Regions from separate parts of the Homo sapiens genome. Here region 1 is linked to region 2. Evidence: fine-mapped expression QTL. A gene starts in region 2. The other region holds a variant in brackets. All regions are shown on one strand. Distances are between the middles of the regions.

The links. PIP is the estimated chance that this variant, and not a neighbour inherited with it, causes the effect.
Region 1: its variant is fine-mapped to the expression of PRKAB1-AS1 in skeletal muscle (GTEx, PIP 0.96).

What each region holds. Positions count from the first base shown.
Region 1 is chr12:119,562,376-119,571,959 of GRCh38, reverse strand. All of the region lies in intron 1 of PRKAB1-AS1 (PRKAB1, TMEM233 and CCDC60 antisense RNA 1), which reads left to right. Among named protein-coding and RNA genes, the nearest start is that of TMEM233, 27 kb to the left of the region's middle. The variant G/A (reference allele first, on the strand shown) is at 4,396.
Region 2 is chr12:119,663,582-119,673,165 of GRCh38, reverse strand. It overlaps PRKAB1-AS1 (PRKAB1, TMEM233 and CCDC60 antisense RNA 1), which reads left to right and starts at 5,039. Exons shown (of 3, transcript NR_188494.1): 1 at 5,039-5,223. It overlaps PRKAB1 (protein kinase AMP-activated non-catalytic subunit beta 1), which reads right to left and starts at 5,033. Exons shown (of 7, transcript NM_006253.5): 1 at 4,763-5,033; 2 at 702-865. The coding sequence starts at 4,921. RefSeq lists enhancers at 3,703-4,338, 4,777-5,186, 7,321-7,465, a silencer at 5,287-5,556 and a cis regulatory region at 7,384-7,401.

The sequences.
Region 1 (9,584 bases), 100 kb after region 2:
ATTTGTTTACATATTGTTTTTGGCTGCTTTTGTACTGCAGTGGTAGAGTTGTATACTTGTGACAGAGACTATGTGGCTTAAAAAACTGCAAATATGTATTGTCTGGCCCTTTACAGAAACAATTTGCTGGTCCCTGGCTTAGACAATCAACAAAACAGTTAATCAAGGTTTATTTGTAATGTTACCAATTTCTGTGGTGTAAATATTCTCACCAACCTGAGGTCACTAAGTGTGATGTTGGAAAGAGATGTATAGTTAGCACACCATTATATAGTGTTTCTACCATATATATGCTATAGAAAGAAATAACCTCGAAGCATCAATAATAATAAAATATTGTAAAATAATTGGAAAACATTGAATTTTTATTATCTTTGTTTTATTTATTTATTTATTTATTTTTGAGTGGGAGTCTCACTCTGTTGCCCAGGCTGGAGTGCAGTGGCACAATCTTAGCTCACTGCAAACTCTGCCTCCCAGGCTCAAGTGATCCTCCCACCTCCGCTTCCTGAGTAGCTGGGATTACAGGTATGCGTCACCACACTTGGTTAATTTTTGTATTTTTAGTAGAGACAGAGTTTCACCATGTCAGCCAGGCTGGTCTAGAACTCAAGCGATCCACCCACGTTCGCCTCCCAAGGTGGTGGGATTACAGGCAGGAGCCATAGTGCCTGGTCATCATCTTTGTTTTAAATATAATTTATTTAATTGTAAGTTCATATAATCATTTTAAATAATGGCTGCATTTAACAGGTGGTTCACAGAATTAATGTAAATTTAACAACTGGCTCCTCAGAAGTTGATATGAGCCAGCTCTGGCACATCACTGGGTTCAGTCTTCATGAGGTTTGTCTTATTTCTGGTTTGCCCTCACTTTTGGCGTCTTATTTCTGGTTTGCCCTCACTTTTGGCGTATAGCCCTTTTCAGTGAAAGGGACAGCCCTTTCATTGAAATTCAAGTGAAAGCCTGGGTGTGCTTTCCTGTTATATGGTTTGGCTCTGTGTCCCCACCCAAATCCCATCTCGAACTGTAATCCTCACGTGTGGAGGAGGGGAAGTGATTGGATCACGGGGCAGTTTCCCCCATACTGTTCTTGTGATAGTGAGGAAATTCTCACAAGATCTGATGGTTTTAAAAGCAGCAGTTTTTCCTGTGCTCTCACTTCTCTCTCCTGCTGCCACGTAAGATGTGCCTTTGCTTCTCCTTTACCTTCTACCGTGATTGTAAGTTTCCTGAGGCCTCCCCAGCCACTCGGAACTGTGAATCAATTAAATCTCTTTCCTTTATAAATTACCCGGTCTCGGGTAGTTCTTTATAGCAGTGTGAAAACAGACTAATGCAACCTGTGACCTTTCTCCTTGTTAGATCCTGAGCTCTTATTTTGCTTCTCCAGTACTGTTGTGATGGTGGAAAGCTTTGCTAAACAGCTCAACCTCTTATATCCACTTTCTTCTCAGTTTCTTAGCTTGGTGCTATTGACAAATTGGCAGAAGATGGCATAGAATGTCAGACTAACCTCGGCGGGCTCAGAGAACTTTAACCTCTTAAGCCCTGGCTGCTTTGATATCTTTGCAATGCCTTCAGATAGATTTTTTGGGCATTTATTAATCTTTTCAAATTGCTTTTGCCAGGAACATTCTGATACAGGCTAGTTCATCAGAACCAGAAGTGAAGTCCCCTGTTTATGACGTTGTAAGTAGAAGTTTTTATATTGCCAAATATATCTGAGCATAGAACTCAGTTTTCCTTTATGATAACTCGTTTAGAAATCCTTTATTAAACTCAAGGTCATTCATATTTTCTTCAAAAATTTAGACTTTTATTTTCACATTTAAGTCTTTTTTTTTTTTTTTTTTTTTGAGACGGAGTCTCATCATCCAGGCTGGAGTGCAGTAGTGTGATCTCAGCTCACTACATCCTCCGCCTCATGAGTTCAAGTGATTCTCCTGCCTCAGTCTCCTGAGTAGCTGGGATTACAGGTGCACACCACCAAGCCCAGCTAATTGTTGTATTTTTAGTAGAGATGGGGTTTGGCCATGTTGGCCAGGCTGGTCTTGAACTCCTGACCTCAAGTGATCCACCTGCCTCGGTCTCTCAAAATGCTGGGATTACAGGTGTGAGCCACCATGCCCGGTCTCACATTTAAGTCTTTAATCCATTTGGAGCTGTATTTTTTAATAGTGTGAAGTAGAAATCAAATTAAAAAAAATTTTTTTACAGATAGCTTATTGTCCTAGTGGTGTTTATAGAGTAGGGGTATACTTTTCCTAGTGACCTGTGATATTTCTTTTGTCGTATGTCTAGTACTGTGTCTGCACTCTCTACTCTGTTTAATTAAACTATTTTTAATATTTTTGCACCAATAAAGTACTATCTTAATTGCTATAGTTTTCTAAGGTAAGTCTTGATTTCTTTTTCTTTTCCAAAAAATGTCGTGGCTGTCTTTGGCTTTTTTCTCTTTTGGAATTAGCTTTTCAAGTTTCACAAAAAACTTTATTAGAATTTCATTTGAAATTGCCTGAATATTTATATAATCAATTTGGGGAGAAATGTCTTTCTTGATATAAATATGTCTTTAATGTCTTTCAAGGGAGTTGTATAGTTGTATAATTTTCCACTTGAGGCTCTGCTTATTTTTAAAATATCTGTATTTCTGGCTACCAGTTTATTTTGCCATCATCATTGAGTATTTTATTTTATTATTTATTATTTTTTAAGAAGGAGTCTCGCTCTGTCACCCAGGCTGGAGTGCAGTGGCATGATCTCGGCTCACTGCAACCTCTGCCTCCTGGGTTCAAGCCCAGCTAATTTTTGTATTTTTAGTAGAGATGCAGTTTCACCGTGTTGGCCAGGCTGGTCTCGAACTCCTGACCTCAAGTGATCCGCCCGTCTTGGCCTCCCAAAGTACTGGGATTACAGGCGTGAGACACTGTGCCTGGCCTGTTGAGTATTTTAAATGTTATATTTCTGTTTGTTGTTGATGCAGATAAATACAGTTAAATTTTATATCACTATTATATTCAATTACCTTGCTAAATTGCCTAATTTATTCTAATAATTTATAGAGTCTTTGCAGTTTCTATGTGAATAATCACATTCATTGCAAATAATTCATTTTGTTGCCATATTTTAATCATTCTACCTTGGTTTAATTCATCTCGTATTATTGCATTGGCTGGGGTATCCAGTACAATTTTGAATGGAAGAAGTGAGAATGAGCACCCTTCTTTTGTTCCCTCCTCTAAAGGGAATACTTCTAAATTTTACCTGCAATTATGATTTCTGTTACAGGTTTTAGGTAGACACGTTTATCAAGTTAACTATTTTTTTTCTCCTATTCCTAGTTTGCTAAGTGTGCTCTGTTTTTTAAAACAAATTACAAATGAATGTTGAATTCTATCCAATGCCTTTTCTTCATCCATTGACAAGATCATATAGTTTTTTTCCTTTGATCTGAAAATGTGACAATTTACATTAAAGGATTTTTAAAGGTTAAGCTAATCTTACGTTCATGGTATAAGCCAAATTGGCCATGAAGGATTTTATTATATGATATAGTTTACGATACGATATATGAATGATATATTTCATGAACATATAGCTAGGTTTTGCTTTCCGATATTTAGGATTTTTGCACATATATTTATTTGCAAGATTATCCTGTAACTTTCCTTTTTCATTTTCTGTCTGGTTTTGGTATCGGAATTATATTAGATTAACGGGTACATTTCCTCTCAGGAATTCTTCGGAAGCACTTGTATAAAATTGGAATTATCTGTTTCTTGAAAATTTGCTGTAAGTTTTTACAATTCTATCTAGATCTTTTTCTTTCCTTTGAGGAAATATTTTAAATTACTGACAAATTTTCTTCGTTTTAGAACTATTCTTGTTTTCTGTTTCTTTCTGAGCCAGTTTTGTAAAATATATAATTTTCCATATATAATTTTCCATGTAGTCTAAACTGTCAAATTTATTGTCATGAAGTTTTTCATAGTATTTCATTATCTTTTAAAATCTCTCTTTTACGTATTTTTAGACATATTCTCCATTTGTGCTTTTTCTCTCTCTTTACTAGATCAATCTCACCAGAGACCTGCATCTGTTATTATTTTTTCTTGAAGAACCAACATTTCATTTTTTAAAAAATCATTTATTTATTTATATATAATATATATTATATTATATATATTATATATTATAATTTATATATATTATATATTATATATAATTTATATATATTATATATAATACATATATTATAATATATATTATATATTTTATATATATATATAATATATATATTTTTGAGATGGAGTTTTTGCTCTTGTCGCCCAGGCTGGAGTACAATGGCATGATCTTGGCTCACCGCAACCTCCACCTCCAAGGGTTCAAGC[G/A]ATTCTCCTGACTCAGGCTCCCGAGTAGCTAGGATTACAGGTGTGTGCCACCATGCCCGGCCAATGTTTTGTATTTTTAGTAGAGATGGGGTTTTACCAGGTGGGCCAGGTTGGTCTTGAACTCCTGATCTCAGGTGATCCACCTGCCTTGGCCTCCCAAAGTGCTGGGATTACAGGCATGAGCTGCTGCAACCGGCCTATTAATTTATATTCTTTTTACTATTACTATTGCCTTCCTTCTTTCTTTGAGCTTACTTTGTTATATTTATAACTTCCTAACCTGGATACTTAGTTCACTAATTTTTAGCCTTTATTTTTAATATAAAAATTTAAGAATATACATTTTTTGAAGTACTTCACTAGATGCATCCCATAAACTTTAATTTATAGCATTTTCATTATTTTCAATTGTAAGTATTTGTACATTTTCATTATGATTTTTCTTGGATTCATGTTATATAGAAGCATGTTCTTCTTTTTAAAATTGAGAAGCACATTCTCTAAGGTCAACATTTTTTGTTTTCTTTTTGTTATCGACTCCATTACATTCTGATCAGAGATCATAATCTATATGACATTGATTCTTTGAAAGTTGTTGAAACACTTTACTGCCTGAAATGTGGTCACTTTTTGTAACTGTTTCATATGTAATTGAGAAGAATGTGTGTTCTCTAATTGTTGGGTACTGGGTTCTGTATATATCTATTAAATCAGATTTTTAAATTGTGTTGTTCAAAGACTCAGTTACTGCAAGATATGTGTTGAAATCTTCCATTTTGAACACCTGGATCCTGCTATGGCTGAAACATCTATCTTTGGATTTCTTTTTTTTCATTTGAGCCAATGAATTTTTGTTTTTTTGCTTGAGTGGGCTTGGATTGGGTTTTGTTTCACAAACCTAAATAGCTGTCGGTGGACAGTTCGGTTGCTTCCACCTTTTGGCTGTTGTGAATAATGCTATGAAAATAGGTATACAAGTCTCTTTTTGAGGCCGTGCTTTCAACTCTCTTTTTAATGTTTTGAAGAACTGCCATACTGTTTTCTGTAACAGCTACACTATTTTACATTCTCACCAATGGTACACAAGGGTTCCAGTTTCTCCCTATCATCACTAATATTTGTTATTTTCAATTTCTTTTGACTATAGCCATCCTCATGGGTGTGAGGTGATATCTCATGTGGTCAACAGGTTTTTATCATGCGTCTGGCACTGTGCTAAGTGGATTACAGCACAGCAAACACACTTACAGAACTTGAAGCCGTGTGGGTATAAAATATACACACATACCGAATTACAGTTTTGCAAATTGCTCTAAGGGAGAACTTCTCCAAGGGAGAAGTTACAGGGAATGGGGTCGAGGGCGTGACTTACTCCTAGAGGAGGGGCATCTCTTAAAGAGATACGTGGTAGGCTGGGCTTGGTTGCTCATGCCTGTAATCTCAGCACTTTGGGAGGCTGAGGCGGGTGGATCATCTGAGGCTGGGAGTTCGAGACCAGCGTGGCCAACATGGAGAAACGCCATCTCTACTAAAAATACAAAATCAGCCATGCATGGTGGTGCGTGCCTATAATCCCAGCTACTCAGGAAGGTTGAGGCAGGAGAATCGCCTGAACCTGGGAGGCGGAGGTTGCAGTGAGCTGAGATCGTGACACTGCACTCCAGCCTGGGCAATAAGAGCGAAACTCGGTCTCAAAAAAAAAAAAAAAAAAAAGACATGGTAGCTCGCTCCCATGCATCCTCCTGGGATGGAGAACTTTTCATGCTGTTTCCTTAATAGGCTTCTGGGGCGGTGACCTTTTAGCTGCTGAGTTTTCAGAGGCCCACAGGTCCTTTCTTAGCGCACAGTAGCCTTCGGGACTGGGGCTTGCCAAACACCTTCAGAAGTCCCCAAAGAGCTCTTACTCTGGCAAACAGTTTGCCATCAATAAACAGGGCAGTGCTTCCTGCCCAGATGCCTGTTAAACTTGCCTCTCTGCCACAGTGAGTCACTCTTAGCAAAGGTTGCCTTGTTGGGCAGGATGGTCTGGTGACCCAAGGCCACTTGGTTTTCTGTGATCCCTTTTGCCAATTTGTGACCAGAAGTTAGATGGTCACTGGGGCAAGGGGAACTGGTGGTAAATGGAGTCACCAGAGGTGGCAGGATGGTTGCTATGTTTGGGTGCATTTTCCGTTAATTCTGTCTAAATAGGTTTTTAAAAACATATATGTATTTATTTATTTTTATTTTTTTGAGACAGAGTCTCACTCTGTCTCCAAGGCTGGAGGGCAGTGGTGCAATCTCAGCTCACTGGAACCTCCACCTTCTGGGTTCAAGCTATTCTCCTACCTCAGCCTCCTGAGTAGCTGGGATTACAGGTACGCACCACCACGCCTGGCTAATTTTTTTTTTTTTGGAGACAGAGTCTCGCTCTGTCGCCCAAGCTTGAGTGCAGTGGCACAATCTTGGCTCACTGCAAGCTCCGCCTCCCGGGTTCACGCCATTCTCCTGCCTCAGCCTCCCAAGTAGCTGGGACTACAGGCGCCCACCACCACGCCCGGCTAATTTTTTGTATTTTTTAGTAGAGACGGGGTTTCACCGTGTTAGCCAGGATGGTCTCGATCTCCTGACCTCGTGATCCACCCGCCTCGGCCTCCCAAAGTGCTGGGATTACAGGTGTGAGCCACCGCGCCCGGCCTAATTTTTGTATTTTTAGTAGAGACTGGGTTTCACCATGTTGGCCAGGCTGGTCTCCAACTCTGGACCTCAGGTGATCTGCCTGCCTCAGCCTCCCAAAGTGCTGGGGTTACAGGTGTGAGCCACCGTGCCCAGCCACTAAATAGTTTTTAAAATATATATAGAGAGAGTGGCAAGATTGGACCCAATGATCCTTTCTTGCTTGGCATTTGGAGAGCTTGAGAGGAGGTGCCCAGGGCAGTCATTTTGACATTTTCTTTGAAGAGACAGGATGACACCACCCAGTTATGCTAAATTCTTGGAAAATTAGTGCAATACCCCTCTCTTCTTTCTCACTCAAGAAAGTTGAGAAGAAAGCCAATTTATAGGCTGGGTGCAGTGGCTCATGCTTGTAATCTCAGTGCTTTGGAAGGCTGAGGTGGGAGGATTGCTCGAGGCCAGGAGTTCAAGACCAGCCTGGGCAACATAGTCAGACCTCATCTCTACAAAAAATTTAAAGAAATCAGCTGGGTATGGTGGCATCTGCCAGTAGCCCCAGCTACTTAGGAGGCTGAGGTGGGAGGATCGCTTGAGCCCAGGAGTTCAGGGTTATAATGAGCTCTAATTGTGCCATTGCACTCCAGCCTGAGTGACAGAGCTCTAAAAAAAATTCCAAATTATAAGTGTAATATCATTATAGCAAAGCATACTTGGCATAGCACCTGGCACTTAGACCTGTGCTCAAGACCATAAGCTATTTTTATTTATTGTTATTATTATTATTATTATTTTTGAGATAGAGTCTTGCTCTGTTGCCCAGGCTGGAGTGCAGTGGTGTGATCTCGGCTCACTGCAATCTCTGCCTCCCTGGTTCAAGTGATTCTCTGCCTCAGCCTCCCAAGTAGCTGGGATTACAGGCACCCGTCACCACGCCCAGCTAATTTTTGTATTTTTAGTAGAGACGGGGTTTCGCCATGTTGGCCAGGCTGGTCTCGAACTCCTGACCTTAGGTGATCCACCCACCTCAGCCTCATAAAGTGCTAGGATTACAGGTGTGAATCACTGCGCCCGGCTTATTTTTAATTAATTATTATTATGTATGTCTTAGGCCTAACCTTCAACCAGGAGTAGCCAAACCACACCCCATGGTCCACATCCATCCTGCCACCTGTTTTTGTATGACCTGAGAACTAAGAATAATTTTTGCATTTTTAAGTAGCTAAAAAAGAGAATAATAGTCTCTGACATGTGAAAATTGTATGAAATTCAAATTGCAGTATCCTTAAATAAAGCTTAATGGGAACACAGCATTGCCTGTTTGTTTATGCATTGTCTGTGACTGCTTTCACACCACCATGGCCGAGTTCAGCAGAGACCATACGACTCACAAAGTCTCAAATATTTATTTTCTGTTCCTTTACAGAAAAAGTTTGCCAAAACTCTTACTAGACTGTCACATCCATTGGAATCCACAAGTACGTACTTGTTGAATATTTATCTGTGAGGTTCAAGACCATGTCCATCTTGCTCACCATTGTCTTTCTCTCTCTTTTTTTTTTTTTTTGAGACGGAGTTTTGCTCTTTCGCCCAGGCTGGAGTGCAGTGGGTGATCTCGGCTCACTGCAACCTCTGCCTTCCGGTTTCAAGCAATTCTCCTGTCTCAGCCTCCCCAGTAGCTGGGATTACAGGCGTCCACCAACACGCCCGGCTAATTTTTGTATTTTTAATAGAGATGGGGTTTCACCATGTTGGCCAGGCTGGTCTTGAACTCCTGACCTTGTGATCCACTCTCCTTGGCCTCCCAAAGTGCTGGGATTACAGGCATTGAGCCACTGCGCCCAGCCTCACCATTGTCTTTCTATTTCTGAATACAGAATTGATCTCAGTCGTTTCTGTGGAGTTCATTGTTACCCAGATGTCTTGGGATTTTCCAGCTTTCATGGGTCATCTTCCATTACAGTTGTTATATAATTGAGCTCTGTTTTGCGTTGATCCAAAAGAATTGCAGTTTTATACCAGGTAGTGCTCCCTGGGCATTTCTGGGGGTCCTTGAGGAATGCTTTCATGTTCCCACATCTGTTTTAAGAGTATTCCTCTGGGAGCCTCCTCCTAAGTTCTCTGCTAGACATCTTTCATTGCCCTAATTAGCCCCATTTCTTTTACTGGAGATCTGGAGGTGAGAGCAGAAAAACATCATAGGAAAGCCTGGACCCTAAATCCCGGACTTCACATATTTTAGAGCTCATGCATCGTGCTCATGAGCACCCCAACTGGTGAACCTTTTTCTCCTGCCATGGTGTCGTGGGCTCATCCTGTTTCCCATGTCGTTGGAGTCTTTGACTATCTCTCCTCCAAATCCCAACTTCCACTTTGTTCCAGAGAGAGAGAAGGAGAAGCCTTTCCTCTCCATCACACAAAGTATTCTTTAGAGAGATGCATTTCTTCCCTCCATGACCTTTTCAGAAGAGGAGATTGCAGCCAGGTGTGGCGGATCACACCTGTAATCCCAGCATTTTGGGAGGCTGAGGTAGGCC
Region 2 (9,584 bases):
ACTGACCTCTCAGGCTCAAACAATCCTCCCATCTCAGCCTCCCGAGTAGCTGGGGATACAGGTGTGCACCACCATGTCCAGCTAATTTTTAATTTTTTTGTAGAGATGGGGGTCTCACTATGTTGCCCAGGCTGGTCTTGAACTCCTAGCCTCAAGCAATCCTCCTGCCTCAGCCCCCAAAAGTGCTGAGATCATAGGCATGAGCCCCCATGCCCAGCCAACATGTACTTTTCAAACAAAGTATTACGCAGAGTCAAAGTTAGATGAAACCTCAGAGATGATCTGGTCCAATATTCCCTCTTTACAGAAACGAACGCTGAGGCTCAGGTTAACTAACGTTAGGTGACTGACAGCATGGCCAATGTGGGCTCAAATGTGGGTTTCTAAGATTCCAGCCCAGTGCTCCCTTACTGCATTAAGACAGATTTTTGTGTTTCTGTGGAAAAGTCCTGACCGAACAGATAGCTGAGGATCTGAAGTGAAAGATGTCTGTGACACAGAAATATTCTCTTTCTTCTGTACTCTAAACCTAGAGACCACCAAGGTTTAACATTTGAACCTTAAGACTTATTAAGCAAAATTATTTTTCCACTAGGCATCCATTTTATAGAAACATCCATTTTCTGTTCTCTCTCAGAGATGTTTTAGAAAGAAGAGAATTTATGTTAAGACAAATATGTGAACACTCCCCAGGCAATTACCTTCTGGTGAGGGGAAGTTTACTCCAGTTGTTGAAGGACCCAGATAAGTAAACTTCCTTTCCGCCCCCCGTCCATCGAAACACCGTTGGCCGAGCCTGGGCGGGAGCTTTATCATTCACTTCCAGATCATGCTGCCAGGCCAGGAATTCCTCCTTCTCTGGTGCCTAGAAGCAGAGCAGTTTACTCAGAAAGCCATAAGCGAGCTCCCTACAACAGACAATATTGACAATTCATTCTAAAGACGCAGCTGTTACTATCTTGGTTCATGGTTAGGATCGGAAACTTACTAGTGGTGCCTCAGTTTCCTTGCCTGCAAAATAGAAATATATTTTTTAAGGTTGTGAAGACTGAGACAGTCCATGTAAGTGCTCTATATAGTGTCTGACACAGTGAGTGCTAATTATTAGCTATTGTTGTCATTAAAGAAGTTGACATCAAAATTCTAGAAGAAGCTATGAAACACACTTGGAAGGGGCTACTACGAATCCAAGACTAGCTTAATGTCATGTTCCTCCCTTAATCAAGCAAGATTTGAAGTACAGTCATGTGCATGATGTCTTAGTCAACGACGGACTGTGTATATGGTAGTCCCATAAGATTATACCATATTTTTATTGTTATCTTTTCTATGTTTAGATACATTTAAGTACACAAATCCTTAAATATACTTGTGGAATAAGTGTCTACAGTATTCAGTAGAATAACATGCTGTACAGGTTTATAGTCCATAAGCAACAGGTTACACCATATAGACTAGGTGATACGGTTTGGCTCTGCGTCCCCACCCAAATCTCACCTTGAATTGTAATCCCCATAATCCCCACGTGTCAAGGGCAGGACCAGGTGGAGGTATCGATCATGGGGGCGGTTTCCCCATGCTGTTCTCTGACAGTGAGTGAGTCTCATGAGATCTGATGGTTTTATAAGCATCTGGCATTTCCCCTGCTTGCTCTCATTCTCTTCTGCCGTCCTGTGAAGAGGTGCCTTTTACCATGATTGTAAGTTTCCTAAGGCCTCCCCAGCCATGCGGAACTGAGTCAATTAAACCTCTTTTCTTTATAAATTACCCAGTCTCGGGTATTTCTACATAGTAGCATGAGAACAGACTAGGTTTGTGTAAGTACACTCTATGATGTTCACACAATGATAAAATCACCTAATGATGTATTTCTCAGAATATGTCCCTGTCATTAAGTGATGTATGACTGTACATGAAAATTTAAGAGGAACAATTCTAGAGCTGTCAACTTGAAAATAGGCAAATCCAGATTTTGAGGAAGGGAAAAACTACTCACAAAGTTCTGTCTAGGGACTGGGGAATAAAGCAAGACAAAGACTGAACCCTCATTAGGATAAATGATAACCTCCAGTGTGGTAAGCTCCGTATAACTGAGGTATTCCAGAATAAGAAATAAACTCATCCAAATCTATCTGGATGACATATGTAGTCATGCACCTTTTAGATTTTTTCCCAGTCAGAAGCCAAAGACTTAAAAAGAGCAGAAGGTTCAGGCTGGAAAAGACTCTTCAGGGAGTTAAGCAGGCTTCTAGCACCTTCATCTCAAATACCGACCTCAGCTTATCCAAATGATGCCTGTATTCTTTGAATTCTAACAAGATCTACATATTAAATAACAGACTGGAATCACTTCACACTAAGGATAACTAATTATGACCAAAATAGCACCCTAGTGTAGTTAAAAGAATTCACGACTTTTTTGGTATCTGGGGATTTCAGTAACTTCTAATGAAGTGAGAATGGACGCTGCTTGAAATCATTCCCCATAGATGATGTGTGTGCTCAACATTTCCTGGAGGAGTTTTGGAATAGTAACAGAACAAATACTTCTGAAGAAAGTAGTTTTGATTCCTTTGGTGTCTTAAATAGCCTTCTTGGGACCAGGGACCAAAATTACCTCCTGGGGAAAGGACGTCAAGTCATTAGAGAAACATGATTCTAAAGTTCACTTTGCACACAGCTCTTCAAGAATGCAACAAATTCAGAGAGCAAGTTCAAACCACAGGTTGTAGGGCCACATAAAAGCAGCCTCTTTGTAGTCAGGCTCAAAACTAAGATCCAAAAGAAGGTGTGAGATGTGATCACCTCGCTCAACATGAGGACAAACACAGATGGAATGAGCTGCCAAGCAATTAAATGGATGATGATTAACATGAAATTGGATACTAACAGGGTATGTTGGGCAGAGGGCAGCTTTATCTTTCCTAAACCTACTTTGTTCCTTGAAACAATTAGTTCCTTTTGGACATAACACATAAATACCAGCTGCCAGAATCACTAAGTGTCCTTGGACTGAGCCCTGCGGCTGGAAATATCCACCATATGAAGGTGGTTAACAGGAGTGTGGTTGAAGCAGGAGTTAAGTCACCTGAGTTTTTGAATTTAAACAGGCTGCAGCAGGAAGAAAAATGTTTGCACTGGCCTGCTTAAGCACGATTAAGTCATATTTAAACAACACTAGAGAGAAGTTCAGTAGCTGCTGGCTGCCTCCTTCAGACAGACCCTCACCGCCCACTGACCTCTAGAAGCTGAAAGACTTTTCTATGTACGCTTTAAAAAAAAGCAGGGTGAGGCCGGGAGTGGTGGCTCATGCCTGTAATCGCAGCACTTTGGGCGGCCCAGGCGGGCGGATCACTTGAGGTCAGGAGTTCAAGACCAACCTGGGCAACATGGCGAAACCCCACCTCTACCAAAAATACACAAAATTAGCCAGGCATGGTGGCACACGCCTGTAGTCCCAGCTACTCGGGAGGCTGAGGCAGGATGGTTTGAGTCCGGGAGACGAAGGTTGCAGTGCCCCGAGATTGTGCTACTGCCCTCCAGCCTGGGCAACAGAGTGAGACTCCATCTCAAAGAAGGAAAAAAAAAAAATAAGTAGGGTGGGTTCAGTGGCTCACGCCTGTAATCCCAGCACTTTGGGAGGCCGAGGCAGGCGGATCTCCTGAGGTCAGGAGATGGAGACCATCCTGGCTAACACGGTGAAACCCCGTCTCTACTAAAAATATAAAAAATTAGCCGGGCGTGGTGGCGGGTGCCTGTCGTCCCAGCTACTCGGGAGGCTGAGGCAGGAGAATGGCGTGAACCTAGGAGGCGGAGCTTGCAGTGAGCCGAGATCGCGCCACTGCACTCCAGCCTGGGCGACAGAGCGAGACTCGGTCTCAAAAAAAAAAAAAAGTAGGCTGAACCGGCCAGCACCGTAGCTCACGCCTGCGATCCCAGCACTTTGGGAGGCCAAGGCATAAAGATTGCTTGAACCCGGGAGTTCGAGACCAGCCTGGAGAACATTGTGAGACCACCGTCTTTTTTATTTTTATTTATATTTTTTTTTTGAGACGAAGTCTAGCTCTGTCGCCCAGGCTGGAGTGCAGTGGCGCGACCTCGGCTCACTGCAAGCTGCGCCTCCCGGGTTCACGCCATTCTCCTGCCTCAGCCTCCCGAGTAGCTGGGACCACAGGCGCCCGCCACCACGCCCGGCTAATTAGTGAGACCACCGTCTTTTAAAAAATAAGTAGGGTGAATCAAAAGTGTTGGGCAGAACTAAACACCTCTGGCAACTGCCGTCAGCTGTTCCGCTCTACTTTCAGCTTGTATATGTACCTGGTTTGCCTCCAAAATGGATAAATTCCCAAACTAACTTTTACAAAAGCTCCAGTTTGTGTAAAGGTGAGGGAATTTGTCTCAAAGCAGTGCAATTAATTACACCTAAGAGAAAAGCAGAAGCTGGGGCTCAATTACTGTTAGCTCGACTCTGAATTAATTAAGAATTTGAAACTCTGTCCCAGAGCTGCTTTCTCCTTAATGATGTTAAACCAAGTGAGCACCTCCTCCCTCAGGGTGACTTTCTCATATTGGTAATTAGACACAGGTTCTTGGACCGCTAAGAGAACTCTTACAGGACCATCTGGCTTTTAAGTGCACCGGGTAATGTACCACCTCCCTCTCCGTTCTGGTGTTTTTCGAAAGGATGTGACGGGAATCTAGTGGAGGGTTCCTCTCCTCAACATTAGTCAAGGGGAATCGGGTTCCTCCACACCGCTCGCACCTTGATTTCCTCGGAGTGGAAGAGGTCGGCGTCTTCGGGGCTGTCCATCAGGATCTTGGGCCTGTCCCCGTCCTTGGTGCCCCCCGAGCTGTCCCTCCGGGGCGTCTTATGGCCACCATGCCGCTCCAGCGCGGCGCGCTCACTGCTGGTATTGCCCATGATGGGGGTCTGCGGGGACACAGGGAAGGCGGACGGCGCCTCACTGCAGGAAAGGGACCCTGAGCAAGGGACTCCCGGAACCGCGGGTCCCAAGGAGCCTGCGGAAGGAGTCGGAGCACCAGGACACCACGCCCCTCGGGCCGGGAGCCGGTTCCGGCTGAGTCGGCAGGGTTGCCGAGCTCTCGCAATCGCGCTTTACCTGCCCAGGCAAGCCGCGGCAAGAACGCAAGGGGCGCGAAGATAAACCGACACTTTCCCAACCGCTTCACCACCCCTCAGCGACTTCCGCTTCCGGCGACTCCGTAAGTCGGCCCGGCCTAGGGCGTGGAGGTGGCGGCGGCCAGCTAAACGCGCGAGGCTATCTCGATTCCATTTCCGCTTCCGGTCTTGAGCGGTGCGGTAACAGGTGCCCCGGGCCGTCTCTGCAGGCCTCGGAGCGCGCAGTCGCAGTCAGCAGCCGGCCGCCCAGGGCCAGGCCCAGGACGAGGCGCTGCCGAGGGCCGGCAGGGGGCACCCCAGCGCGCGGGCAATCTGAGCCGTTCATGCGCTGGGCTGAATAATGCCATTTAGCTATCTTTGCTCACTTATAGTTGATTCTACACTCTGCAGCCAGAGGGATCTTTCTAAAATGCAAATCTGATTCAGAAACTCCACTTCTTAAAGCCCTTTTAATGCACGTGTTCTCACGCTTTACAGTGCATTAGGTTAACCTGGAGCGCTTGTTAAATGCATCCCCCACTGCAGACCTGCAGAATCATGATTTCTACAGATTAGGGTCGGGGGTGCAGGCAGTCTTGCAGGTATTTGAAAAAATGGCAGACCATAAGATCTCTGGAAATTTCTTATGTCTAGTAGGTTGGGGGTTGTAAAATGCTGGAGTTATTCGTGTATTTTTATTGAGTGTGCAATCTTTTGATAGGTAATTTTGCAAGATATCTTGTAATCACTTCGGAAACATCCTTCTGCATAAGATGCATTAGCGTTTGTCATTTACTCTGGTCAGTGCTTCAACAAGAAGTGCATACAAATACGGTAGTAAAATATTCTCATCTTCTCATTGTCAGTCATTGTCATATTTTGTGGGTTTTTTGGTGTGTGAATATCTCAAAATACTTTGCATTTGCCGGGTCAGGTCATGCATTTCACCCACTGAACATTTATTTAGTACCTAAAAAAGTACCAGACATTGTGCTAAGGAAATGAGGAACACAAGATGACTAAGATAAGGTTTCCTGGGGGGAATTCAGCAGTATGCATCAAAATTTAAAAATGCACCTTCATTTTGACACACAATTTTACTCCTAGGAAACTTGTGCAGAAATACACACATGAAAATTATTTACAAGCATTATCTACAAAATATTTACATGCAAAAATATATTCTAAGATGCACTTGTCACCCCCCATGCCCCCATATATTTTAATTTCTGAAACTGGATGCTTTTTACAATAATGGAATCTTACACTTGGTGAAATAAGGAAATGAAAAACTACAAAATCCTAAAAGTTGTTCAGTAGGAGAATGGCAAAATGAATGGAATACATTCATTTTGTAGAATACCAAGCAACTTTTAAAAAGGGAGAAACCATTTTTAGGTCACTATGGGGAAGTGTCTATGATATTGCAAGGTCCGGAAGCAAGTGAGAGAACAAGTTCAAGGGCAGGAGCTCTGAATTCAGCCTGGCCATGTTCAGATTCTGGCTTTACCATTTAGTAACTGTCACCTTAGTCTCTTCTTTTGTGAAATGGGAACAAAAATAACACCTACTTCATAGGCTTGTTTTGTGAATTAATTGGGAACGTGCATAAAAATGCTGAGCATAGCACTTGACTCTTAGTAAACACTCAATAACTGTTAACACTTTTATTAGCACTATTAGGCTAGCAAATGGAAAGTTCTGGAAGGGTATACAACACATTGTTAATAGTGGTCTTCTGTGGGGAGAGGAGGGAGATTGCAAATAGGAGCAGACAGAAAAGGGACTTTCACTTTTCATTTATATAGTTCTGTATTTGAAAAGTTTTCTATTGTGAGGATGTACTACTTTTTAATTTAAAAAAATAAGATATGGTTCCAGCCCCAAAGGAATTAATACAGTACAGGCTGGCACCGACCCACAGAAAAGCAATAATATAGCTAGGTAAGGGATCCTGTGGGAGCCCAGAAGGGACTTAAGCCAGGCCAGGAAAAGGGATGGGAGCCAGGAAAAGGGATGGGAGCCAGGAGGGTCTTCCTGAAGCTGATGACTGAGAATTTGAATGTATTCAGTATAATCAGAAATGTTGAATGTGCTTGCTGAATTAAATAAGCTAAGATACTGTGGATGACCCAGGATATCTTCTTTGAGCTGCTTTTCTAATAGTGGCCCTGACTTGGTTACATGAGACAGTGGGGTGTTGAGTTTTGAAATCTCTCCCAAACAGCCGGAGAGATAAGAAAGAACACATGAGCTGTGGATTCTTTATCTGAGCTATGCAGATGCTTTGATGCATGAAGAAAGTTTTAAGACATCTGCACTAGCTTGAATAAGATAACAGTGAAAGCATGGGTGGCCCTTGATGTCAAATACAATCAACAATATCCTGAGGATGCCACCAACTGCTGATTGGAAACTCTTACCACATTGTATCAAGATTTCATGACAAAGAAACTAACATTGGTATCTATCAGCTATTGACCCCATATTGAAAATCATGGGTAGGGTAGACTCGCCAATTACAAGTGTCTACTTGGGTCCCAGCTGTGTCTCTCTTGGGTCATTTTGTGTTACTTATCTGTGTAACAATGGTTTGTGACTTTCCTAAGCATCAGAGCGTCTCATCTTTCTCTGATTCTCTGCTGATATGGATGTCAGACCATTCCATCTTGGGGGCTGGAGGTGTGCCAGGAAGTATAACTGTTAGCACATTGCTGTGTAAAAGGCATCATCTACTCACTGCTGTCTGTCTGGCACCAGGGCAAAGACAAATGATAAATACCCTAGATTCTCCCCCAAACAAACCAGGGCAATTTTAACACAGCCACAGCTAGGAGTACCCCTCCCCCACCCCCGCAACCCTGGCTTCAAATTCACTCCAGCTCCAAGCACAAAAAGAAGTAGGTTTTCAAGTCCTTAAAAGTCACCCAGAGTGAGATAAAATCTCATTTATCCTTAAATTTATGATTAAAAGGGTTAAGGATAATGTTTTGGGGCCTCCTCCATAGGATGGATTAGAATCAGTATAGCACTTCTGAACTGACCAACCCATTTGTTTTATATAAGGAAGAGTCTAAGTCCCAGAGATCGAACAGTTTTGCCTGAGGTCACTCAGATGATCATAGGTCATACTGAGACTGAATTCTGGATCACCTGGCCACTCCCCACTACATCATGGTCATGGCACCTCATCAAAAAGACCTTTGGTTCCCCAGCTGGCCTGTCTACAAACATTTGTACTGTTCTGAAGAACCCTCCCCATCTAAGAACAGCCAGGGCTCTGATCACAAATAACTCAATGGCAATATTGAGTGCCAATTATGAGCCAGGCACTGTTGTAACTCTTGGTTACAACAGTGAACAAAACCAAGTTCTTGCCCTCCAGAGGAAAGAGTCCACACACATATGCACATGTGGTGAGAACAGGCAGTGTTCTCACTAAACATCGGTAGCTGGAGGAAGAAATTTCACATTTGGACTATGCTGTAGACTAAATTGTATCCCCCCAAAATTCATACATTTGCACTCCCACTCCCAATTTTATAATGTTTGGAGGTGGGGCCTTCAAGGGGTAATTAGGGTTAGATGAGCTCATGAGAGTGGGGCCCCCATGATGAGATCAGGGTACTTATGGGAAGAAGAGACGCTGGAGAGCTTGCTCGCATGCTGTCTATTCACGCCCATGCTCAATGGAAAGGCCATGTGATGACAAAGCAAGAAGGCGGCCATCTGCAACTCAGGGAAAGAGCCCTCACCACACATCAACCATCCTGGCACCCTGATTGTATTAGGCCATTCTTGTATTGCTATAAAGAAATATTTGAGGTTGAGTAAGTTATAAAGAAAAGAGGTTTACTTGGCTTATGGTTCTGTAGGCTGTACAGCAAGCATGGCTCTGGGTATCTGCTTGCTTCTGGTGAGGCCTCAGGAAGCCAAGGGGGAGCCGATGTATTGATGTATCACATGGCAAGAGTGGGAGTAAGAAAAAAAGTGGGAGGAGGTGCCGCACGCTTTTAAACAACCAGATCTTGTGAGGGCAGCACCAAGACGATGGTGCTACACTATTCATGAGAAGTCCACCTCCATGATGCAGTCACCTCCCACCATGTTGGAGGCCTCACCTCCAACATGGGATTACATTTCAGTGTAAGATTTAGGGGGAAAAGTATCCAAATTATATCACTGATATTAGACTTCCAGCTTTCGGACCTGGGAGAAGTAAATCTCTGTTGTTTAAGCCACCCAGTTGATGATTTGTTATAGCAGTCTGAGCTGACTAAGACAGACTCAAATGTGTGTGGGCTGCTAGGATAGAATTACAAGCTTACTTTTAGGGCTTAACCAGATTTCCACCAGGCCTTCTGAATTTTGCCTAGCCAATGTAAGTAACACTGCCAATGTTTGAGAAACTTGTCCATCTTTTCTTGCTAGACATTCTTGTGTTCTCTTTGCACTGAGATGTGAA